7 linked regions of the Homo sapiens genome follow. The protein of the gene in region 2 interacts with the protein of the main gene of each other region in a pairwise test. Each region holds a gene or a part of one and is shown on either strand. Other genes may lie near its edges. The genes, in order: BANP, ESM1, ANKS1A, HDAC7, KIF1B, AQP1 and FAM124B.

Region 1 (3,500 bases), on a different chromosome or scaffold from region 2:
AGAGACTCTGTCTCAAAAAAAAAAAAAAAAAAAAAAAGATAGTGATACAGTATAAACATGAAGATTAAAGGGAAAATAACTGTGATCCCACCATTCTGAGATCTCTAAACCTTTTGGGGTTTTTTGGTGCACATTTTATGATTTTATAACTCACTTCTTTCCCCTACACAGTAGAAATCTTTCCACGTTAGTGCAGATGGACAGAGTCATTTTTAGCCAGTTTTGCTTATTTCATCAGGTCTGGATGCTTTCCAGGGATGGCCCCCTCTAACCTTTCGTTATTGAAACTAGCATTGGCCTGCTGTGTTTTCATGTCTCTTGGATCAGTGTCTGGACGTGGGCTCTCAGAGGCAGGTTGCTGGGCTAGAGGACGCAGCTTCCACGGGTTCCATGGCACAGGATGCATTGCCCATTTCCCCCGAGATCTGGAAGGATGTGAAGCTGTTTGTCCTACTTGGACTCCTAGCGGGGGCCTCTCTCCTGCAGGGCTCTGAGGTGCCCTCCCGCCTGGCCCTCGGCCTGCCCAGTGTGCCTTTCAGAGCCGTCTTCCCCTGAGAGCCTCTGTGTGCCCTTCATCCTGTCACCGTAAGTGACCAGATGACTGTCAGTGACTACAGCGTGGAGAAAAGAAAGAACCAAACAGACTTAGCTTTGTGCGTGGAGTTGTAAAGCATGTGTTTTCCTTGCTTACTAGGAAGAACTCAGTTTTTCTGCATCTGCGTCTGAGTTGTTGATTTTTCCTAGCAACTCGATGTTGCTTTGTCTAGTGAACAAAGGCTTTCCTGTTAGGAAGACTCATTACCGTATCTGAAACATTGAAAACAATGTCTTCCACAAAAATTGCTTTTACCTCTAATACAAATTGCTAGGATTCAGATGGCAGAATGGAGGGAAGAGAGAAAGAGACGTTGAGTTGATCTTTTTTTTTTTTCCAAGTTGAGATCTAATTTATATACCATAAAATTGACTGTTTTAAAGCATACGTCTCAGTTGTTTTTAGTATATTCTCAAGGTTGTACAGTCATCACTTCGGACTAATTCTAGAATATTTTTTATTACCCCCAGAAGAAGCCCTGTGCCCATCAACAGTCACTTTCCATTCTCCCAGCCTCCAGCCCCGGCACCCAGCTCATCTCCGTCCTCGTGGATGTGCCTGTTGTGGACCTTGACTCTAAATGGAATCCTGTGGCATCACCCACATTGTAGCTTTTGCCCAGTGCTTTGTTCCTTTTCATGGCTGCGTGATGTGCCGAGGTATGGATGGCCCTCATTCTGTTGATCCATCATCAGTTGATGGGCATCTGGGTGGTTTGCACTTTTTGGCTGTTGTCAGGAATGCTGCTGTGAACGTTGAGGTGCAGGTTTTTGTGTATGTATTAATTGCAGGATCAGGGCAATGGAGTTTTTCACACATGAAATTTGAGGAAAGGAGGGATGCTCCTGATTTCATTTTCATAGAAATTGAAAATCACATTGCAGTAACGACAGACTAATTGTTGTAATTATTTTTGGATGTGGATTTTGTATAAATCCCCACATAGATCTGGCCACCCCCTTCAGGCCTGATGTTTGTTTGATTGAAACTGTGTTAGCTAAGGCAAAAAAACTTGGTAATTCTGGGGAGTCCAGGGTCATAAAAACAAAAAAATCTAAATGAACTTATGAGACGATATCAAATTTGGAGCTTACTTAGTATTGATCTGTATCTATAAGGAAAAATACAAATTTTCTTTGTGTCTGAGTTTAAGTTTTTTTGATGTTTTGTGTAAGACATTTTTCTTTAGCTAGGCTTTGAGCAGAGTTTTATAGCCATCTTTACCACTGATTGTTCTCATCAAACATAATTTTGCTGTACAACACAGGTTGTTAGGATTGGGGTGAACTGCAGAACTTTTTCTCATCTTAAATTTGACTTTATTTTGAAGGAGAGGTCATCATCCAGAGCCATTCTGTTTTCTCATCCCATTAGGAGGAAACATTTTTTGTAATAAATCTGTTTCACTGACTGTCCTTGGGAATGTATATCCCAGTGGGGTCGGTGTTATGAAAATATCTGCTTGAGCTGCCTTATTTGGCATAGTGGCTTGGTGAAAATGAGGAAGTCACCTTTAAATGATTGCTGTGTATGTAAATGTTGGGAAAATAGCCAATCCATTAATGTCTCTTATGTCAGATTTAATCTCAGCCCGTAGTGGCGTCCTCTCTTCAGCACTTCCATGGGGGGTGCGAATGTGCCGAGAATGGGGCCAGCATCTTCCTGCCTGTGGCCCTCTGTCCCAGAGCACCTGGGCAGGTGGTGAATCAGCGAGTTTCTACGAGGGAAAGCATTAGGAATATGGGAAGTGCTAAAGGGGGTGTGCTTGTCTTTCTATTTAGTTGTTTTAGGCCCTGATAAGAAATAGGAGCCGCAGGAGACAGATTGTTCTTAGCTTCTTATTTAAGTATTTAAGTGCCTTAAGTCTTAGAGAACCACAGATTTCAAAACGGTTATTTCTTAAGAATTCCAAATGGCTTGTGTGAATTGACATGCTGTTTTGTATCAAATTTGGAGTCAGTTTATTGTACTGCAAAGATACCATATCATTTTATTCTAGTTTTTTTCACTTAGGTAATTCCGTTTGTCATTACACACGCTCCACTGGAATAAGAAGGATGGTAACTCTCAGCTATTGAAAGCAGGGAACAGTAGACTGTGTCTCATTGGAATAAGAAGGACGGTAGCTCCTGACTGTTGAAAGCATGGAACAGTAGACTGTGTCTCATTAGAATAAGAAGGACGGTAACGCTCAGCTATTGAAAGCAGGGAACAGTAGATTATGTCTCATTAGAATAAGAAGGACGCTAACTCTCAGCTATTGAAAGCAGGGAACAGTAGACTATGTCTCATTAGAATAAGAAGGACAGTAGCTCCTGACTGTTGAAAGCAGTGAACAGTAGACTGTGTCTCATTAGAATAAGAGGGACTGTAGCTCCTGACTGTTGAAAGCATGGAACAGTAGACTGTGTCTCATTGGAATAAGAAGGACTGTAGCTCCTGACTGTTGAAAGCAGGGAACAGTAGACTATGTCTCATTGGAATAAGGACGGTAGTTCCTGACTGTTGAAAGCAGGGAACAGTAGACTGTGTCTTCATTCTTGTGCTTGCCTTTTGTCAGTAGTTTTGGTCTTGGTGTGCTCATAGCTTTGTTTTGTACTTGAAAGTGTGTGGGGCCTCATCATTCAATGACTAAGCTGCCAGCTGAGTTAGAGAAACAAGTTGAGCTAAAATGGACCTAGCATGGGATCTGTTTGTCCATTAAGGGATTTAGTTAGGTTCTTAATCAAGAGTTTAAATTTCTGCTGTGTATGCATTTGATAATTCTTACAAAACGTGACTGATCCTATACATAAAATGTTAGGTACTTCATTTCAGTGGGGGAAGGATTGTGGTTGAATTCTAATTGAATTATTGCCAGGAATTGGTCCCATGGACTTCCCAGGCAGTAGAATGACTTACGTGG
Region 2 (2,613 bases):
AATTTGCTAAAATGAAATTTTCTACTTCAAGGAGTAGTGAGGTGTGCTTGCTTTGGCAGTGCACATTCTGATGTGGAATGCTTTAAGAAGATTAGCGTGGCCCAGCAGACGAATGTGTGTAAGTCCATGAAACATTCCAGATCTTACTCCCCCAAGACCCTCGTACACAAAAACTTACTTGTGAATTCCCAACTTGGGAAGCTCACTGCCAAAAAAAAGAACACCAAGTGGAACACTGTGGACAGGAAGCACATTTGACAAGAGTGCTGTAGCCAGCAGGTGGAAAGTTGGAGAAGACAAGCTCGTGCTCTGGGGGTCCTAGTGCTGGTGAAGCTTGCAGCCATTTAGCCTGCTCTCAAAGGCTGGGCCCAAACAGGTTTGTGCAGAGGTGATGTGAAGCCTGTGTCAGGAGTGAAGCCCAAGCCTTCTCCTGTAAACTCCAGTGCATGAACCTGGAAGTCTCATGTAGTCTCAAAGACACATGTAGACTACAAAGAACCCTAGGCAGCCTCCCCAAGAGGTCCTTAGGGTTTTCTGCTCTCCATCCTGAACCTGACTAAGGTTTACCAAGATCACACTAAAAATCATCTTTTGCTGGTTGCACCTTTAGCTAATGAAAGGAAATACCCTAGGTCAGAAAAGAGAGAAACTGACTGCTTTTTTCAAATATTTCTGATAAGAATCTCAATGCCTAACTTTGATGTGGAAATATTTTTGTGTAACCTATAATGTAAGTATTGTTATGGGCATCACCATACTTAAAACTAATAATTCACTTAAAAGCACGATATTTCCGCTTCATTTTAATGTGTTTAGTTGACCCATACATAAGAAGGAGGTAAAATTAGAAAACAAGCACCTTTGCCAAATAGTTTATATTTTATTAACTTGAAATGCAAAAGACCAAAAGCAAAAACTAAATAAAATGGACTTGAATTGTTATTTATAGTTGTGGTGGGAAAAAGTATATCATTTGTTGATACTAGCCATCTCTGTGACTATATGTTGGGCTTATTATTTATTTATTTTTTATAATTTTAAATACAGTTTTTAATTGACAAATAATAATTGTATACATTTAGGGTACAATATGATACTTTGATATATATCTCCACTGTGGAATGATGAACTCAAACTAAGTAGCATATCCATCACCTCATATACTTATTTTTTGTGATGGGAACATTTAAAATTTATTATTTTACCAATTTTGAAATATATAAGAATTATTAACTACAATCGCCATTCTGTGCAATGGAGGCCTAAGCTTTAGTGATGTATGTTGCTTTAAATGAGCTACTTTCAGTTTAATGGAACTCTCCTGTACTGGCCAGCTATTCAACAAAATAAACAAATATGTACATAGCACCATCTCATAGGTTGTGTATTCCTCACATTCTAACACCTGTATAAGAAATACACACGGACTAACAAGCAGCACGTATTACTACAGTTTCATTCATTTCCAAAATTTCAATCACATACTATTTCTTATCCTCTCCAAAATCCATAAAAACACACACTTGGAATTATTACACTTAAATGCTTTCATTTGGTTAAAAAAAAGAAACGTTCTATATTTTCTATCTTGACTCTTAAAGCTTATCCAATAAATTCCTCACAGTACTTTTTCTATGTGAAGTTGGGAGATAAATAGTTTTGTCTAGTAAATATATAAAACAGATCACTGAAGAATTTAAAGAACTTTGTGTATCTCAGTTGGTTATTTTTTATTACAGATTTTTGGTAATCAATCATATTTATCCTCCTATAAATCATATTTAAACCAGGTAAACTTTATGAGAAATTATATGTAAACCTCAAAATTATTGATGGGCTCTTTTTAGAAAACAGCAACAGCAACCAAACTCAGCTACCACCCACCGTTCCCCTGAGTAAAGCAAAGGAAATAAAATCATTCCAATCCACATCTTATTCTACTCACAGATATTTTCTAAGTTATTCACACTGAAATGAGACTATTCTTCCAATGCTTATACCAGAATCAGTGCTTACCCGTGAGAGAAACAAATCTGTTGGAAGACTTGGTTACTGAATATTGGAAGAAGGGGAATTTCAGGCATTTTCCCGTCCCCCTGTCACAGATGCCTGACTGGCAGTTGCAGGTCTCTCTGCAATCCATCCCGAAGGTGCCGTAGGGACAGTCTGGGGACAAAGGAAAGGTTGGAGAGGACGCTGCTTGTTGTAAATACGTCTCCATCCTAACAGCCCTGGGTGCATAGCCTTGCGATTTGAACCAACCTCATGAACCTTGACTGTAAAGTAAAATCCAATTCTCCAAACCCAGGATTTGAAAGTTGAAACTTTGAGTCATAAATATGAAATCACACATTAAGAACAGATAATGGATGCCTCGGGCTTAGTGTTGTGATGTAAAGTTAAGTTGAAGACAGCTACACACAGCCAGTCTCCTTGGACCAGTCTTCATTCTGGTGATGTTCTGCTTAGATACCAATAAATTCTCACAGATGACCTCTGTAACAGCTCAGCAAAGGTGGGAAATTGAACAGACATATATGCATCAGCTCCTCAAAGAGTTTTTAAAATGTGATGCTATCTTTGAATCTACTGTATTCACAGATAATTTACTAT
Region 3 (3,933 bases), on a different chromosome or scaffold from region 2:
CCAAAGTAGAAGCATTGTGCTCAACAGGTTTCCTAGTCTTGCTTAACTATATTAACTATATGGCAGTTAAATCCTCAGCAGAATTTCAATAGTCTCCGAGTGAGCGCACTAAGAATAACTTGACCTGAGGCCGGGCAAGGTGGCTCACGCCTGTAATCCCAGCACTTTGGGAGGCCGAGGCCGGCGGATCATGAGGTCAAGAAATTGAGAACAGCCTGGCTAACATGGTGAAACTCCATCTCTACAAAAAATACAAAAATTAGCTGGGTGTGGTGGCGCTTGCCTGTAGTCCCAGCTACTTGGGAGGCTGAGGCAGGAGAATCGCTTGAACCCAGGAAGGCGAAGGTTGCAGTGAGCTGAGATACTGCCACTGCACTCCAGACTGTGGACAGAGCGAGACTCCGTCTCCAAAAAAAAAAAAGAATAATTTGACCTGTGTTTGAGGGTGGGAGATATGAGAAACTTCTCACTTTAGCAGGATATGCTGAGGGTTAAGATATCTCTGGAAAATCTCCAAATGCTATGTCATCAACTCATTAAAGACAGAGGCATCTCCAAACCTGTACAGTCTTGTCACCTCTCAGACATCAGAACTGCAGAGTGGCAAATCCAGGTAAGATTCAAAACCCAATTCATGCATTCACTGTACATTTATTAAACACCTGTAAGTTGTCAGGCACTGATCTAGGGACTGAGAATATAAACATGATATATGGAAGTATACCCATCCATTATTATTTACCTTTATTATGCCCAACCTCTCAAGGGTGCAGGCAGGAAGTTCTTCTCCTGTTGCCTAAGGAGCACCAAATAAGTCTCCATTCTCATTTCTGTGCCTCTGATCATGGGGTACCCACCTGAAACATGCCCATCATAACTCACCTACCCAAATCCTCACATCCTTCAAGGCCAGCTTAAGTCTCCCTCCTTTTGGAAGCCCTGACTTCCACTCCATCCCTAAATGATGTCTCTGTTCTCTGAGCTGCTAGCAATTACAGCGAGTAATACCATCCACCATCCATTTATTTAGAAATTTATTGTCCTGCAACTGATACTTTTATTTCTTCAACAAATCTTAAGTACCTACTTATATTGCTTTTTAAAATCTTCCTGTAAAGACCTGGGTTGGTACTCAGTGCTTAATATCTATTAATAACAATTTATTAGCGCCTTAGGCTTATATGGTCCAAGCTCACTCAAACTGAAGTTACATAAAGTAATGGGGAACAAAAGCTAACGAAGGCATTTCTAAATGAACTTCCACTTCTTAAAAACCTCAAAAGAACAAGGAAGGAAAAAGAAATCAGGCTATGAAAGCGCTGCTGAACTAACACATTTAACTCACACTAACAAAGCACCCCCAATCCCCCTTCGAAGCCACACAAAACTGATGTTTTTCCCTCGGTCCTTACAGCTCCAGATTGAAGCGTTTAACAACAGACCTTGGAAAAGTTTACAGCATCCTTCGGTTTCCTAAACAAGTCTCTCTGCCTTTATTTCTAGATGAATAAGCCCCTGGATGAATCCTGCATATGCCACTTAGACTAATCCAATGAGGTTCACTACAAGGAACTACAATTTGAACTTCAAGCACAAGAGAGGCTCAAAGACGAACATCTTGAAAATGATACATCCAGAGGCAATTTTAATAAAACAAAAGCGAGGGGCCAGGCGCGGTGGCTCACGCCTGTAATCCCAGCACTTTGGGAAGCCGAGGCGGGCGGTTCCTGAGGTCAAGAGTTCGAGACCAGCCTGGCCAATATGGTGAAACCCCGTCTCTACTAAAAATACAAAAATTAGCCTGGTGTCGTGGCGGGCGCCTGTAATCCCAGCTACTTGGGAGGCAGAGGCAGGAGAATCGCTTGAACCCGGGAGGCGGAGGTTGCAGTGAGCCGAGATCGCGCCACTGCACTCCAGCCTGGCTGACAGAACAAGTCTCCGTCTCGAGGGAAAAAAAAAAATAAAGCGAGGTCCTGTGTAGCCTGGTGGAAGGTTCCAAGTTCCTCAGAGAAGAAAATCAATAGAATTTCCTCCAGAGGAGCCTCGAGATTCTACAAGGCGTAGGAGTTTCTGCAGGAGGTGAGGGAGATCTCATATATATATATATAAGATATACATATTTGCTCTTAATTGGCTTTTGTGAGCTACGATAGCTGGCACCCTGTAGCGAGCGAGAGTGAACCCTGGCTGTGCCATGCGGCGGAGGCTGCCACCTGGGCACTCCCACCATTCTTCGCAGCCGGGTCAGAACGGGAGACCAGGCGAGCCCGGAGCAGCGTGGACTCGGACCTGCGCGCCCTCCGGTACCCTGGCCCGCGGGCCGCCTGCCTCGCCCCGGGCACGCCACAAGCCCACCCCGCCCGAGTCTCAGGACCCCCGATCTCTCTGGGGACCCAAGAGACGGGTGGGGGAGAAAGGGTCTGCAGGCAGCGGCCCGGCCCTGGCGCGTACCCACCTGAGCAGACTGGAGAGGGGGTGGCTGGAAGAGCCGAGGCCGCCGCCGCCGCCGCCGCTGCCGCCGCCGCCGCCCCCAGAGCCACCGCCGCCGCCGCCCCCAAAGCCTGAGGAGAGCCGCTTCCCGGACAGCAGCTTCTCCACCGCCGGGAGGTGCCCGGTGCGGGCCGCCTCCAGCAGCTCCTGCTCCTTCCCCATCCCCAGGGCCGCCACCCGCTGGACCCCCTCCCCGAGGCTGCAGCCGAGCCTGCTCGGGCTCCCAAACTTTCCGTCTCCGGGCAACGCACCCCCCAAACCGGCTGGGGACACCACCCCCTCCCTGCCTTTTCCCCACGAGCGCGTCACTTCCGGGATCCGGCGTCACGCGTCACCGCGCCCCCGCGCCCCGCCCCCTAGCTCACCTAGCTGGGCGGGGCTCCGCGGACCAGCGCAGGTGGACTTTGCTGTGCCGAGACACGCCTCTCGGGGCATGGGGACAGCGCCTTGTGGGCCCCCATTATGCAGGTGGAAAGGGACAAACAGGCCCACCTGTACGCGCCTCCCGAAGTGCGCTCCTTCCCCAAAGGTTTTGGGAGCTCCTGGGACAGGAAATACGGTAATTCGTCCAGGCAGCGTAGAAACAAAGAGATAAATGTAACGCGCACCTACATTTCCAAGTCCATTCTTTCAGCACGCATAAATTAAATATGTAATAGGTGCGGGGACCTAGTCATACCCAGGTGAATAAAACGCCCTCCCCCTCGTATCTCAATGAGGGAAGAGAAGAAAATTTTAAAACAGAAATATCCTCACCACTTCATCCTCCCAGTACGTGAACTAGTTCATTAAAGTGAAACGTTCAAAGGAGACACCTTCCTCTCTTTAGGCTTTCCTCTTAGTTTTAATGAGATTAACCAAACTGATAGAAAAGTGTCAGACTTGTAAAAACAAACCTCAATCTTCAGTACTGGCGAACTGAAAAAAATCATTTAATTGGGTAGAAACTATGTGTGTTTTGTTCCCTGGTACTAGCACTGTTTCTAAATCGAAGTAGGCAGTCAATAGTTGTGGATGAATAAATGAATTGGATAAATTCTGCTCGAGCTATATGACTTTTTGTTGTTAAGGTGCTTGCGGAATGGAGGGGAAATGCTAGCAATTCTATGTACACACAGGCCCGCGGTTTCGGGCCAGTTGAAATATACAAGGTTGAGTCCTTGCCTGAAAGTTTACCAGTCCCGGGGAGCCTCATTCCACGACACCGCCATACAACGGAACTGAGTTTTCTCCCAGTCCCCCAACTTTACTCTGAGGGGTTAACGAAGGGATTAACTGACATTGCATTTTTAGACAGGCGAAAAGGAAAAAGTTATTTAGTAAACAAAACTGCGCTCCTTCACAAGTGCTGGTTTCCTAGCGAGGAGGATCCATAGTCTGAGCTCTTTACGTCCAATTTTCCCGCTTCCCACTGTCGCCAAACCAAAGTTAAAATGAGTCCTC
Region 4 (3,341 bases), on a different chromosome or scaffold from region 2:
ACATCCAGACACTGATGGTTTTACACATGATGGATTTAATCCTGACTATAACCCACTTTACAGATGAAAGTGAGCACAGAGAGATTAAGTAACTCACACACAGTCATTCGTAAGTCATGAGATGGATTTGAACCCAGGCGGGTTAGCTCTAGAGTGCTTGCGTTTAACTGCTAAGCTATGTCCCTTCTGCACTGACAGCTGTGTAAGAGACATTTCTAAGCAGAAGTTGAGAGCGGTGGAGGACCTTTGCACACTTGAGTTCCCGCATGGTCCTGTGAGTCGAGTGTAGGGCCCAGCTCTCCCTACGAGGGATGGGGCTGGGCCTCGTGTACCTGCCCCTCTGTAACCGAGCTTGGTTTCTGATCTCCTCATAACTTCATGACTTTATGCAAGACAGAGTGGTTCCTGATATGTGTAACCCTGAACCCTTCCCTCTCCTTGCCACTAACCCCATGTCCACACAGTTACTCTCTCAGGTGGGCTGGCCTGAGATTGGGACACCTCCTCTCCTTCAGGATCTCATATTACAGCCAGCCCTGTCCAGCACAGAGAGGCCGAGGTTCAGAGCCGGGCAGTGGATTACGTGGGGCCACTCGACCGTGTGGCTTTAGGAACCCCAGGTTCCTGATCCCAGTCTAGGGTCCTGACCTCAGAATGGCCACTGACCTTGAAACCCTTCTAACCTGTCCTGGCCCCCATCTCTCTGCCTTCCCTAATCGCTGCCCGTCTCCCTACACAGGACGTGCACCATGGCAACGGCACCCAGCAAACCTTCTACCAAGACCCCAGTGTGCTCTACATCTCCCTGCATCGCCATGACGACGGCAACTTCTTCCCGGGGAGTGGGGCTGTGGATGAGGTAACCGCATGTCAGGGCCACATCTTCCAGCCTCATTGACCTCCTCCTGACACTTACTCTGCCTCTGTCATGACGAGCTGTGTGATCCTGGGCAGACTGCTGAGCCTCTCTGATCCTAAACTTCCCCACCTGGAAATGGGGAGGCTGGATGAGCTGGGCTGGCAGCTCTAACAAACTGGTGTTCCCCTTCTGGGACTCTGCTGTCCTCATGTCTCTCTTGCCTCCTGTTTTCCAGGTAGGGGCTGGCAGCGGTGAGGGCTTCAATGTCAATGTGGCCTGGGCTGGAGGTCTGGACCCCCCCATGGGGGATCCTGAGTACCTGGCTGCTTTCAGGTACGTGCTCTGGGGGCCCAGAGGGGCAAGTCCACCCTCTCCTGTCCCTTCTCCCAAGAGCACCAGGGGGGAGGTGATCAGTTGGATTGTCAGCCTGTCCCCACCAGTTCCTAGACATTGTAGGTGAACGCCAGTGAGAATAGGACAAACAGAGAGAAGAATGCAAAAGTCAAAGGGTGCTTTGCAAAGGCATACATTACCGAGAGCCAATGTCAAACTGATTGCTGGCAGGTGGGTGGTGGAGTGAGCAGAGCTGGCACATTTAGTCAGAGAAGGCTGCCACTCTATTTGGGAAAAGAGAATTCTGGAAATGGATCTTCAAACACTTTTCTGGAGTTATCTCCATGACAGCTAATTCTACGAGAGCCCTGGGCTGGAGTTCCTGGAGTCTTCTCAGAGCCCAGGGCTATGAAGAACACCCAAGCAGGCCCCAGAGTTGGATCAGGGGTAGAGGAAGGCAGCTGGGGGGGGGCCTGGAAGAGGGAGAGGATGAGAGAATGTAGCCAGGTGGCGCAGAACCTCAGAGGACCTAGTTGTCCCCTACTCAGCTCTCAAGTAGTGAGTAGCTGGGTGTGGTCAACTCAGTCCAAAGGACTGAGCACTTGTAGTCCCTGAAGCTTTGTGACCAGAGTCCATCTCCGCAAGGCTGTGAGATTACCCTTTCCCTGTGGCTCCGGCCACTGCACCCCACAGATGCTTGCATGCACACACACACATGCACACACACATGGTCACACACACTCCTCTTTCATTCCCTCTGGTGCTCCATCCTTGGCTCCTTTCTGCCTCTTGCTAGTTAAGTCCCCTAGGGGGCTGAGTCCTTAGGCTGTGTGTGCCAGGGACATGGGTGGCCAGCCAAGGTCAAGGAGGTCAGAGAAATCTGCCAGTTGTGCTGGGGCACTGGGAGCCTTGGAGTCCTAAGAACAGGGTGCCCCACCGCAAAGTTGGCAGGACCGCCCCTGGCAACCCTGCACAGTACGATGATCGCCACTTCTTGTGACCTCACAGGATAGTCGTGATGCCCATCGCCCGAGAGTTCTCTCCAGACCTAGTCCTGGTGTCTGCTGGATTTGATGCTGCTGAGGGTCACCCGGCCCCACTGGGTGGCTACCATGTTTCTGCCAAATGTAAGGGAGCCTCAGCTGAGGGGGACGTTAGGGACAGAGAGCCAGGCGGTGCGGGGAGTTGGGAGGCACTCCCAAGTCAGAAAGGGAAGGTGGCAGTGGCCAGCCCAGGGCTTTCAGCCTGAGGACTGGAGTATGGCAGCTGGTCCTGAAATTCCCCGGGATCTCCTAGCCGAGCACAGCCCAAGCCCTTTCTCAGGACCAGGCCGGTTCACCACGGAGGGCTTGACCAGGTCATACCCATGGGGACTTAAGTCCAGTAGGCAGGAAGCTCAGCCGTGGGACTCCCCACCACAGCTGGGTTGATTCCAGGTGGGCTGGCAGCTCCTCCAGAGGAAGGGGAGAGAGAAGCAGCACTCTCAGAATAGAGGGTGGCCACAGGGCCCAGAGTACAGAAAGAAGAGAGGGTGTAGCTCAGTGAAAAAGACACAGGCTAGAGTCAATGACCCAAGTTCAGGTCCTACCTTGCTGCCACTTACTAGCTGTGGGGCCTTTCCCAAGGCCCTTAACCTCCCTGAGCCTTGAGTGAAGCATACTAGTAGGTTTTGTACGACATTCAATGTGAAAGCACTTTGGAAATAGTGATTGATACATGTGAGTCATTCTTTATTAGGGAGGAAGCAAGCAGGGAAGCCACAGGGGTAGAGAACAGGGTCACCTCTCCACTCCCGCCCCTCCCATTTCTCCCCTCCCAACCTCTAGGTTTTGGATACATGACGCAGCAACTGATGAACCTGGCAGGAGGCGCAGTGGTGCTGGCCTTGGAGGGTGGCCATGACCTCACAGCCATCTGTGACGCCTCTGAGGCCTGTGTGGCTGCTCTTCTGGGTAACAGGGTGAGCCGTCTCCCTCCCCCATCCATGCTTCTGTCAGGCAGGTAAGCCCGGCTCTCAGGACTACCCAAGGAGCAGGCAGATGGGATGGGACAGGGTGGGAGTGGCCAAGCCTGAAACAAGGTAGGCGAAGCGGAAGCCTCTGTTCCAAGTTAGGTCCAGGCAGCATCTCCTGGCCTAGGTAGAGTGTGC
Region 5 (3,500 bases), on a different chromosome or scaffold from region 2:
ATCTGTACTGTAGTCTGATGCAAGTTGAGTCTGGGGTGAGAGGGCCAGCCTGGGTTTCTCCAGTTGGGTCTCATAATGCATCTGCACCCTGGCGCAGCATGTTGCCATGGCACGGTTTCGCTTTTGCCGTATTACTTTGGCAGATAAGATTCTAGGCCAAATAGGTCATTTGCCTGTTTCATCGAATCTAAGGACTTGGCCTAAGTGTGGCGTATTTTGATGGTCCTCAGCACGATTATTTTCTTTTTGTGAGAAACTAACTTTTGTCATATTGTCGTTTTTAGCTCAGTGGTCTCTAAGAAAGGATACCTTCATTTCAAGGAGCCTCTTTACAGTAACTGGGCTAAACATTTTGTTGTCGTCCGTCGGCCTTATGTCTTCATCTATAACAGTGACAAAGACCCTGTGGAGCGTGGAATCATTAACCTGTCCACAGCACAGGTGGAGTACAGTGAGGACCAGCAGGCCATGGTGAAGGTCCGTCCTGCCCTGCCTTGGTTTCTTATTGCCACGTGTGCCCTTCTCTTTTGATTTCTGCACTCTCTGTTACGTGGTGTGAAATTTCCCTATTCTCTCTGGTTTTGAACTTCCTTTGTGAAGTGCTATATGCCTTGGGAATATGGCAAGGCAGTCCCCATTGCTGTCTCTGTAGTAACTTTCTTGTCTACCTGCATTTTTCTTTCAGACACCAAACACCTTTGCTGTCTGCACAAAGCACCGTGGGGTCCTTTTGCAGGCCCTCAATGACAAAGACATGAACGACTGGTTGTATGCCTTCAACCCACTTCTAGCTGGCACAATACGGTAAGAAGTTTTGTTGTTGTTGTTGTTGTTTTTGAGACGGAGTCTCACTTTTTCTCCCTGAAGTGCAGTGGCTTGGTCTTGGCTCACTGCAACCTCCGCCCCCTGGTTCAAGCGATTCTCCTGACTCAGCCTCCCCAGTAGCTGAGACTACAGGCACGTGCCACCATTGCCTGGCTAATTTTCGTATTTTTTGTAGAGACGGGGTTTTACCACAATGGCCAGGCTGGTCTCAAACTCCTGACCTCAAGTAATCCACCCACCTCAGCCTCCCAAAGTGCTGGGATTACAGGCCTGAGCCACTGCACCCAGCCTAGAAGTTGTTCTGTGTTTTCTTTCTCTCTTTGGCTTTTGGCTTCAGGAATATCAGGATAAATAGGAAAGGAAGAATTTTTCTTTTCTTTTTTCTTTTCTTGTTTTTTTTTTTTTTTTTTTTTTTTGAGATGGAGTTTTTGCTCTTGTGTGGCCCAGGCTGGAGTGCAGTGGCATGATATCGGCTCACCGCAACCTCCACCTCCCAGGTTCAAGCCATTCTCCTGCCTCAGTCTCCTGAGTAGCTAGGATTACAGGTGCCCGCCACCACACCCAGCTAATTTTTTTTTTTGTATTTTTAGTAGAGATGGGGTTTCACCATGTTGGCCAGGCTGGTCTTGAACTCCTGACCTCAGGTGATCCACCCTCCTCGGCCTCCCAAAGTGCTGGGATTACAAGCGTGAGCCACCACATCTGGCTTGAAAGGAAGTATTTTTCAAAATAAATTTAAAAGAGAGGAAGGACAGGAGTGTAAATTGGTTGTGGGGTGGTAATGAGGCCTCTGCATCTTGTAAGGCATTGTCATGTTCTGAACCACCAGGGATACTCTGGTCACACATGTGCACCAATTATTTTCCTTCTTTGTCTTTTTGTTCTCAAGAGTTCTAAAGATGGGGCTCAGGGGAGAGAGTAAAGGGAGGACAGTGAGAACCTTAATGGTCTCCCAACCTCCAGCCCTGTGATTCAGCCTCACGTTCTGAGGGCTTGTGTCACAGGGTCCCGGAGTAGACGGCTTAGAGGACTAGGCCTGCGGTGCCAAATAGGAAGATGCTCCAGGAGGGAGCCTCAGAGGGAGAGGACTGTGAGGGGACAAGACTTGTACCCAGACTTCTAATCCTACCTCCCCGTTTGTCCCCCATAGGTCAAAGCTTTCCCGCAGATGCCCGAGCCAGTCGAAATACTAAGTGACTCTGCCGAGTGCCCTCACTCGCCTTCGAGAGATAAAGAAAGCGTTACCTCTCATTTCTCTTTGTGATTCTTGACGGTGACTCTTGTATGTAATCCTGTGGCTTAACTACTTCTCCCTCCTTGTCCAGCACTTTTCTAGCTCTCCCGTTCCCCATCTCCATTGCTCTGTACTCTTTTCTTTTTTCTTGTGCTGAGAATCTCGTTAGTAGCATGTGGCCTAACAAAAGGAAAAAATGTTTTTAAACACACACACACACACACACACACACACACACATACACAGACAAAAACACAAAAACTCTGAGGGGATCTGGTGAATCTCCAAATTATTGTGGGTGTACTTTGGCTTCCTTTTGTATGATAGGTCCCCATCATGACCACCTCTGATGTCTGTGCTGCTGTCACCAGGCACCTTTGTTTTTCAAGACAACATACTTTTTTTTTCTTTTCTCTGTTTGTGATATCACTTTAATTTTTCTTGGGTGGCTTAGAGACTAAGGGAGGAGACATCTGGCCTTTTTAGAACCTGAGAGGAAAAAAAGAGTCTTTTTTTCCCCTCTGTCTCTTTTTGCCATGGCTAATCCCTGCATTTCCATTCAGGGAAAAGGTGGTAGTGAGCATAGAACTGCAACAGTTATATTCTGAGTCAAAGTTGGGGCTTTTTACGGCATAATTATGGAATTTTTATTTACTGGTAGAGAGGAGACGAGAGGCTTTTTCAGTGGGCCTGGGACAGTGGCTGCTCTTGACTTTGTGTGAAGGGAAATGCCAAGGATGCTTCTGGTGGACTTCAGGGGACCCCAGGGTTTGGCCGTGGGCCGTGATGGCAGCAGGCGGTGGGATGCTTGTAGCTCCTCACAGCAGGATTCCTGCCCACTGTTTTTTCTCTGTTGGGAGGGAAGCTCTTTTCTAGGAGTGTCTCAGTTCTGCTTTTGGCATTAGTGATGGTGGTGGTACAGTTGGAATTAGTGCCATGTCATACACAAATGTTCCACAAGGCGGGAGTGTTTCACTTTCTGGTGATAAACTTGATGGTCATTGTTATGATTAAGATAATGCCGGGCAGGCCGGGCACAGTGGCTCACGCCTGTAATCCAAGCACTTGGGGAGGCCGAGGCGGGCAGATCACGAGATCAGGAGTTCAAGACCAGCCTGGCCAATATGATGAAACCCCGTCTCTACTAAAAATACAAAATTAGTCGGGTATGGTGGCACATGCCTGTAATTCCAGCTGCTTGGGAGCCTGAGGCAGGAGAACTGCTTGAACCCAGGAGGCAGAGGTTGCAGTGAGCCAAGATCGCGCTATTGCACTCCAGCCTGGGTGACAGAGCAAGACTCTGCCTCAGAAAAAAAAAAAAATAATAATGCTGGGTAGTGACCTTGTGATTGTTACAGCTCCCTTTGATCAAAGAAATATAGCTTTCAGGCATAAACCTGGAAGTCTCCCTCTGAATCCAGCAGTTGTTTTCATTGATGCT
Region 6 (3,500 bases), on a different chromosome or scaffold from region 2:
TTTCTCCTGACTGACTCAGGGCTCAGGATATGCCCTAGAGAGACCGTGGGCCTCCGTCCAGCCTGCAAGGTCCCGGCTAGTTCTAAGAGCCAAATACCAATTTTGGCTAAGGGTGAGAGGCTCTGAGGCTGGGGTGGACACTCTCACCTGTCCCTGTCCTAGCTCAGCCACTAACACCATGTGGCATCACACAACAGACTGGCCTGTGTGGCCCTAGTTCCTGTCTATGAGATAGGGACATAGCAGGGTGTGGCTGGGCTCTGAGAAGTAGGAGATGCTGGTGGACTCAGGATTCCTGGCATTTGCTGGCTTTTTTCATTCTTCTGCTGTCTGGTCTGCTCAGCCGGCTCCCTGCAAGCATGACCAGGGACTGCTGGGTGCTCAATGCAGGGCTGGGTTAGCCCGGCTCCCTCCCGAGAGAAGCCCACAGCCCTAGGTCAAGATAAGCCAGTGCCCAGCTGCCTGTGATATGAAGCAGGAGGCAGATGCGATAAGAGGTGTCAGGGCGGGCCCGGGAACTTTTGAACTTAAGGGGTGGGAGGGCCAGGAAGGCATCAGGGAGGAGGTTTCGTAGGAGCCTGAATGTGGAGACACTGCAGAGGGAAGGGGCAGAGGGACTGTGTGAGCAAGCACAGGCTAGGAGGAGGTGAGGGCCGTGGTACGGGAGTTGTTGGGTATGGTCAGGCTGGGGGTGCATGGGAGGAGGGTGGTGAGGGCTCAGGATTCGGGCCAGGGGCTGCATCCGGGGGAAGGGGTCTGGATTCCCAGAGCCTGTGATTTCAGCCCGCTGGGCTCAGGCAGAGGGCAAAGCTACCCTCTTCGGGGTCTTCTCCCAGCCCTGCTAATTCCAGGCCTGACTGCTCAAGAAGTGTTTCTACCTGCAGCATCAGGGGCCTGACTGAAGCCCTAAGTTCTCCCCTTTATCCCGTTTTTCTGGGCTTCAGTTTCCCCAGTCATAGAGTGAGAGGCCTCTTCATGCCACCAGTTCTCCCGGGGGTGCTGCTGCCTCCTCCAGAGCTCAGGGGAGGGATGGGGAAAGGAAGGCAGAGTTTCCATGTCCCTGCCCAGCCCGTCCTGCCCAGGGAGGGGCTGGGGGCTGGGTGGTGATGCCACATCTGGGACATATAATTACTGTTTCCGCCAGCCCCAGATGAGGGGGAGGGCACAGAGATGGGGAGCTTTGTGGTGGAGACTTCCCTCACCATGGAAAATCCTGACGCTGCTTCCCCTTTAGGGACCTCAGAACAGCCCAGCCGGTCCCAGTGTTGCCCACCCTGATGCTTGGCCCTGACTGGGATTTGCCCTGGGAACTCTGAAGGGGCCATGCTTTGAGAGGGGACACGGCCTCCTGGGATACCTGTCTGAGGGGCTCACCCCCTGCTCACCACTCCCAGGCCACAGCCTCCTGTCACACCTTGCCTTCCCTTCTCCACCCCAGGCAACCTTCTAGCAGCATGAAGTGGCCATTAGCTCACTGCAAGCCAATTCCAGATGGTACCCCCACTTAGTCTAGGGCCCCCACCCAGCAGGGGCCATGGCCCTTACCTTCTGGAAGCACCAATGAGTCTGGAGTCTCCTGAGTGGCTGGGATCTGAGCCCTCACACCGGGAGGTGAAGGCAGGAAAATGCTGTCCGCGAGGCCCTGCAAGTGGCCAGGATCCCCTCAGTCAGGGCTTCCCCATGGGGATGAGAGGGGCTCCTTGCCCACATGGAGTGGTGCCCAGGGGGATCATGAGGGGCTGTCTTCACTCAGCCAGGAGCTACAGTTCTGTGGGGTGGGCAGACTCTGAGGCTGAAATCTCCAACTTAAAAGATATCCGGAAAGGCCGGAAAATGCCCCCGGCCCTTCCAGCAGCTCCTTTCAGTGCCTGCAATCTCGCTGTCAGGGCCCCTTGAAAGGCAGATTTCTACTCAGTGTAAAGAAGGTTGTTGTTGATATTGTTGTTGACACGAAGAAGGGGCTGTCTCTAAGTCAATAAGCTCCCTGCCATTAGGGGTGTGCAAGTAGATGCTTTCTGGTGAGGAGGCTGCTTTGGGGGTGCTAGTCTATGCGGGGGTCCAGTGGGGTGGGTGACAGGTTCTGCAGCATAGGCTTTGTGTCATGCTGAGATCAGCAATTCTGATGGCCTGCGGGGGATCCTGTGCTTAGGTTTCTGGATCTGGGGCTGGAGAGTGACCACCCCGATGTGAGGCAGGAGGCACTTTTGGAGACTGCGGGGGCTCGAATCTGGGCCAAGGCCTCCATTTTACTGATGGGGAAACTGAAGCCCACAGAGGCGTGGAGACTTGTCAAGGTGGCACTGCCTCCTAGCCCTTGATTATTCCTGCTGCTCCAAAGTGTACACACATGGCACAAACACAAACATGCACACACATGTGCTCTTACGTGGAGGACACACACACATGGTACACAAAGCACATTCTCAAGACTGGGTGGTCCCACTCAGACTCTGGGACCCAAGGAGGGTTGGGCGGGGATTCCTCAATGGAGCCTTTTCCTCTCCCTGCCCTGGAGTTAGGAAAAGAAGGAGGGAGGGAGGGAGGAAGCCATTGCTTTGTGTATTGTTTCTTGTCAGGAAGATGAAATGGCTTCTGGGAGCAAATAAAGGCCTTGTTGAGACCTGCTGCTTTCTCACATGGGGGGCTCATTTTTTTCTCTTCTCTTCCCTCTCTAGCTGGTAGTGGCAGCTATGTGGGTGTGTGACACAGGGAGACAGTGAGGCACCCAGAAGTGCCATCAGACATACCAGTGCAAACACACAGCACAGCCTCCAGGACCTCATGTCCTGCAGGGATGCCTGTATGATATAGCTGTTCCCAGGGAGGCCGAGGCACTTGGTCAGTACCTCATCAGTTGATGAAAAAGAGTGTGCATTCTCTAATTCAGGGGTACAGGGTTTTCATATTTTTCTGAAGTCAAGCTTGTTAATTATGGGGTTCAAACCCTCCCTGATCATGTTATTGGTAGTTTTCGGCTGCTTCATTTATTCTGTACATTTCTAATAGAAGATTGTTAACATTTTTCACTCTGGTGGTAGGGTGATCCAGTCCTCCTTGTAATTTTGTCAATTTTCCCCTCATTTATTTTTAGGCTATGTTGTTTGGTGCATACAAGTGGGGGATTTTTGCAGTTCCTTTATAGATTTTTATTTTTTTTTTTGAGACGGAGTCTCACTCTGTCGCCCAGGCTGGAGTGCAGTGGCACCATCTCGGCTCACTGCAAGTTCTGCCTCCCGGGTTTATGCCATTCTCCCACCTCAGCCTCCCGAGTAGCTGGGACCACAGGCCACCACACCCGGCTAATTTTGTTTTTGTATTTTTAGTAGAGACGGGGTTTAACCGTGTTAGCCAGGATGGTCTCGATCTCCTGACCTTGTGATCCACCCGCCTTGGCTTCTCAGAGTGCTGGGATTACAGGCGTGAGCCACCGCGCCTGGCCAGTTCTTTTATAGATTTTTAAAATGTAATTATTGTGTAATAAACCACTTACAATCTAACAA
Region 7 (3,455 bases), on a different chromosome or scaffold from region 2:
GGGTAGAGAAAATAAGGGGAGGTTTGTAGAAAAACATAACTACACAAATTTTATATACAGGTTTGACAGTGAAGGGGAGGACAGAGAAACCTGGAGGGAAAGAGAGGGTGGAAAGAATGTGTTTTTCAAGACACGAGACTTGAACAAGTTTAATTGCTGTTGGAAAGGAATAGGCAGAGAGAGAGAAAGAGAAGGAGAGGGAGAGAGATTAAACATCCAAGATAAGAAAGTGGGAAAAATGAATAATTGATAGGTCAGGGTCACCAAGAAGGCGGGAGGTGATGGGAGTCTTGGCCCAGGGACCGGTCACTTTCACCTAGAGAGAATGGTGAAGCTGCAGGTAAGTTTCGCGGTAGCAGTGAGAGTGTTGCTAACTGGTGACAGCATCTGCTTCCTTGATAATCTGGATGGTGAGACCACCTGATGAGAGAGAGTGGGGGCGATGGTGCTGCTGAAGATTTCAGGACAGTTTTGAAGGTTTGAACAGCTGCTGGGTGAATGGAGAGAGGTGACTAAGGAAGCAGGCAGACTGGCGGGTAGCCTGGGAGAGGCCGGAAACCACGCCATCATGGGGCACCCATTTCACAGACCGATGTGTTTCTGTGGCATCCTGAACACATGTTCAGAAAATGTGGGCAGGTAGATGGATGAAAGGTGGGGAGATTTTGTGGGAGTCTGTGACAGAATGGGAATAGTGAGGGGAGTTGGAGGTATTGGTGAAGAAATGGTTGAAGTGATAGTCTTTGGACTCAAATTGACTCTGAAAGGCAGTGTGGATGGGAGGGGCTGACAGGGAGAAGCTGGGGATTGGGAGTGTTGATGTTGAAGAGCAGATGTGATGGGGAATTGAGTGCCGGAGCCCATGGCCTCAGAATGCCTGGCTTAAATAGAATCTTTCAAAGATGGGACATTTGCAGGTGGAGAAGGCCCAGTGGAGGGGCTGTGGGACTGGGTGACAGAGGGGAGTGGAGGGGTGAGCTGGGCTGGCCCAGGAGGGCGCTTCCTGGCTGCCCTGAGATGTCTCGGCACTGGTTGGGGCTTCAGGACCAATTTCATTATGATCTGACATTGATTTAGATGGCAAGGGGCGATTACTCAGGCTTCTCTCTGTGTTCACAGTTGCTAGAGAATGAAATACAAGCCCCAGAGTCAAAGTTATTGATTTCTTTCTCCAGATTGGATAATCTAATATCAACCCTGAACCATTTCTCAGTATGGAAATATCCATGCCAGTTTCCATTTCTAGAAGAAAAAGATGTCATTGGGTCAATTAAAAAGGTACATTATGATACAAGGGTACAGTGTCAAATGATTCTCCAAGAGGCAATGATGGCAGTTGGCCCTTTGAAGGACTAAGGGAGTTTGTTCTCCAGGGGAAGGGAAACCCCAGCTGACATTTCGGAGATAGTATTTTTTCCTCCTGATTTTGAAAGGATAAGCAAATAGTCTTCATTGGAAAGTGAGAATTTGGGGGTGATTTGAGGTTGGGATAGGGAGAAGGCTTTACTTTTTATTTTATACATTTGTACAATGAAATTATTTTTATGGTGATAAATTACTACTTTTATAGTAAGACTTTTTTAAAAAAACAAACAGATGAAAAGGAAAGAAAGGAAAGGAAGGGCAGGAGGAAGGAAGGAGAGAAGGAAGAAAGGAGGGGAGGGAGGGCGGAGCTGTGGAATTAGAGCAAAGGGAAATGTAGAGAGAGATAGCAAAATGAAATTAGGCAAAGAATTTTTCAGAAATATGGAGGAGGAGGTCGGGTGTATGTGATAAGAAACAGACTCACAACGACCGCAAGTTAACTGACTACTCGAAGCCTAGCTTTTCTGGGTCCATGGCAGTAGTTCCGAAACTTCGCTGCACATTAGAATTACTGGGGGAGATTTATCAGCTCTGACAGCCAGGTGTACTCTGACCTGATGAAATCAGGAGGTCATGGGCTGGGAGCAGGCATCATTGTTTTTTAATGATCCCAGGATGTTCCCTTGTGCAGCAAAGTTTGGGAACAGAAATTTCTCCTATGGGTTTGCATAAGGACAGGTCCTTCGGTGCAGTGGGCATCCCTTCAACAGTGTCGCCCCTAGAGAGAGTATCTGATGCTGGTGGAAGCTCTCTTCAACACACTCTGGGGCACTGCACTCAGCTGTGGTTCAGTGCAAGCACATCTGCGATAGGGGTTTCAGGTGTGTGTGGCTCTAATGAACTGGCTTGGCTCAGGGGTAGAATTTAGATATTCTAGAATAGTGGTTTTCAAGCTGGTTCTGTGAAGCCCTGGGGAACTAGAGAGGGGGTCCCGTAGGCAGAGGCTACCCTCTGTACGTCAACCAGGGCTGCGCTAATTAGATTGCTTCATATTTTGGGCTTCCAGGTAAGAAATTGTTTGGAAAAAAACTTCTTAAGATAGAGAGATGGCTCACTCCTGTCATCCAGCATTTTGGGAGGCCAAGGTGGATGGATCACCTTAGGTTGGGAGTTTGAGACCAGCCTGACCAATATGGAGAAACCTCATCTCTACTAAAAATACAAAATTAGCTGGGCGTGGTGGTGCATGCCTGTAACCCTAGCTACTAGGGAGGCTGAGGCAGGAGAATCACTTGAACCTGGCAGGTGGAGGTTGCAGTGAGCTGAGATTGCGCCATTGCACTCCAGATTGGGCAACAAGAGCAAAACTCCATCTCAAAAAAAAAAAAAAAAAAAAAGACAGGGAATCATTGATCTAGAATAGGGCTTGGTCAACTGTGGCCTGAGAACTAAAAATAGTTTTCTATTTTTATATGGTTGGAAAAAAATTCATGACACATAAAAAATATGAGATTCAAATTTCAGTGTTCATACATAGAGTTTTACTGAACACAGCCATTCATTTATATATTGTCTATGGCTGCTCTGCAGCAGAGTTGGATAGTTGGGATAAAGACCATATGGCCGGCAAACCCTCAGATATTTACTGTCTGGCTCCTTGCCGAAAATATTTGCCAACTTCTATTCTAAAAGAATCAGTGGAAGTCCTTGTTTTTTTGTGTGTTTGTTTTTGCAGCTTGGTAATATGCACCTCACCATTTCTATCAGAAAATTGAGATGTACTCTGCGTCATCTATACAAACAAATATGCTCTGTGTGAGTGTGTGTGTGTGTGTATGAGAGAGAGAATTTACTGATTTCTAGACCTGTTTTCTCACTGTCCTCATTTCTGCCTTCTTGCCTTGTAAGATAAATATGTATCATTATTTTTTCTCCCTTGAAATAGACCTTATTTTTTACAGCAGTGGTAGGTTCACAGCAGAATTAAGCAGAAAGAACAGAGAGTTCCCATATACAACCTTCCCCCCGAAAAGAGCCTCCTTTCCTGTCAACATCCTTTATCAGAGTGGTACATGTGTTACAACTGATCAACCTACAACGACACATCACCATCACCCAAAGCCCATAGGGTACATTAGGGTTCATTCTTG

Evidence for each region.
Region 1: the proteins of ESM1 (region 2) and BANP interact in binary tests that used the Homo sapiens proteins (3 or more experiments, as listed by UniProt).
Region 3: the proteins of ESM1 (region 2) and ANKS1A interact in a two-hybrid assay, tested with the Homo sapiens proteins (one large-scale study listed by BioGRID).
Region 4: the proteins of ESM1 (region 2) and HDAC7 interact in binary tests that used the Homo sapiens proteins (3 or more experiments, as listed by UniProt).
Region 5: the proteins of ESM1 (region 2) and KIF1B interact in binary tests that used the Homo sapiens proteins (3 or more experiments, as listed by UniProt).
Region 6: the proteins of ESM1 (region 2) and AQP1 interact in binary tests that used the Homo sapiens proteins (3 or more experiments, as listed by UniProt).
Region 7: the proteins of ESM1 (region 2) and FAM124B interact in binary tests that used the Homo sapiens proteins (3 or more experiments, as listed by UniProt).

The regions. Positions count from the first base shown.
Region 1 is NC_000016.10:88,006,934-88,010,433, forward strand, and holds part of BANP (protein BANP), read left to right. Parts: intron 1-3,500. UniProt on the Homo sapiens protein: Controls V(D)J recombination during T-cell development by repressing T-cell receptor (TCR) beta enhancer function. Binds to scaffold/matrix attachment region beta (S/MARbeta), an ATC-rich DNA sequence located upstream of the TCR beta enhancer.
Region 2 is NC_000005.10:54,979,981-54,982,593, forward strand, and holds part of ESM1 (endothelial cell-specific molecule 1 isoform a precursor), read right to left. Parts: intron 2,167-2,613; coding exon 2,017-2,166; intron 1-2,016. UniProt on the Homo sapiens protein: Involved in angiogenesis; promotes angiogenic sprouting. May have potent implications in lung endothelial cell-leukocyte interactions.
Region 3 is NC_000006.12:34,888,122-34,892,054, reverse strand, and holds the start of ANKS1A (ankyrin repeat and SAM domain-containing protein 1A), read right to left. Parts: upstream 2,801-3,933; 5' UTR 2,653-2,800; coding exon 2,456-2,652; intron 1-2,455. UniProt on the Homo sapiens protein: Regulator of different signaling pathways. Regulates EPHA8 receptor tyrosine kinase signaling to control cell migration and neurite retraction.
Region 4 is NC_000012.12:47,785,563-47,788,903, reverse strand, and holds part of HDAC7 (histone deacetylase 7), read left to right. Parts: intron 1-739; coding exon 740-859; intron 860-1,094; coding exon 1,095-1,192; intron 1,193-2,200; coding exon 2,201-2,319; intron 2,320-3,018; coding exon 3,019-3,152; intron 3,153-3,341. UniProt on the Homo sapiens protein: Responsible for the deacetylation of lysine residues on the N-terminal part of the core histones (H2A, H2B, H3 and H4).
Region 5 is NC_000001.11:10,374,570-10,378,069, forward strand, and holds part of KIF1B (kinesin-like protein KIF1B), read left to right. Parts: intron 1-284; coding exon 285-477; intron 478-685; coding exon 686-804; intron 805-1,975; coding exon 1,976-2,018; 3' UTR 2,019-3,500. UniProt on the Homo sapiens protein: Has a plus-end-directed microtubule motor activity and functions as a motor for transport of vesicles and organelles along microtubules.
Region 6 is NC_000007.14:30,914,853-30,918,352, forward strand, and holds part of AQP1 (aquaporin-1), read left to right. Parts: intron 1-3,500. UniProt on the Homo sapiens protein: Forms a water channel that facilitates the transport of water across cell membranes, playing a crucial role in water homeostasis in various tissues.
Region 7 is NC_000002.12:224,381,653-224,385,107, reverse strand, and holds part of FAM124B (protein FAM124B), read left to right. Parts: intron 1-3,455.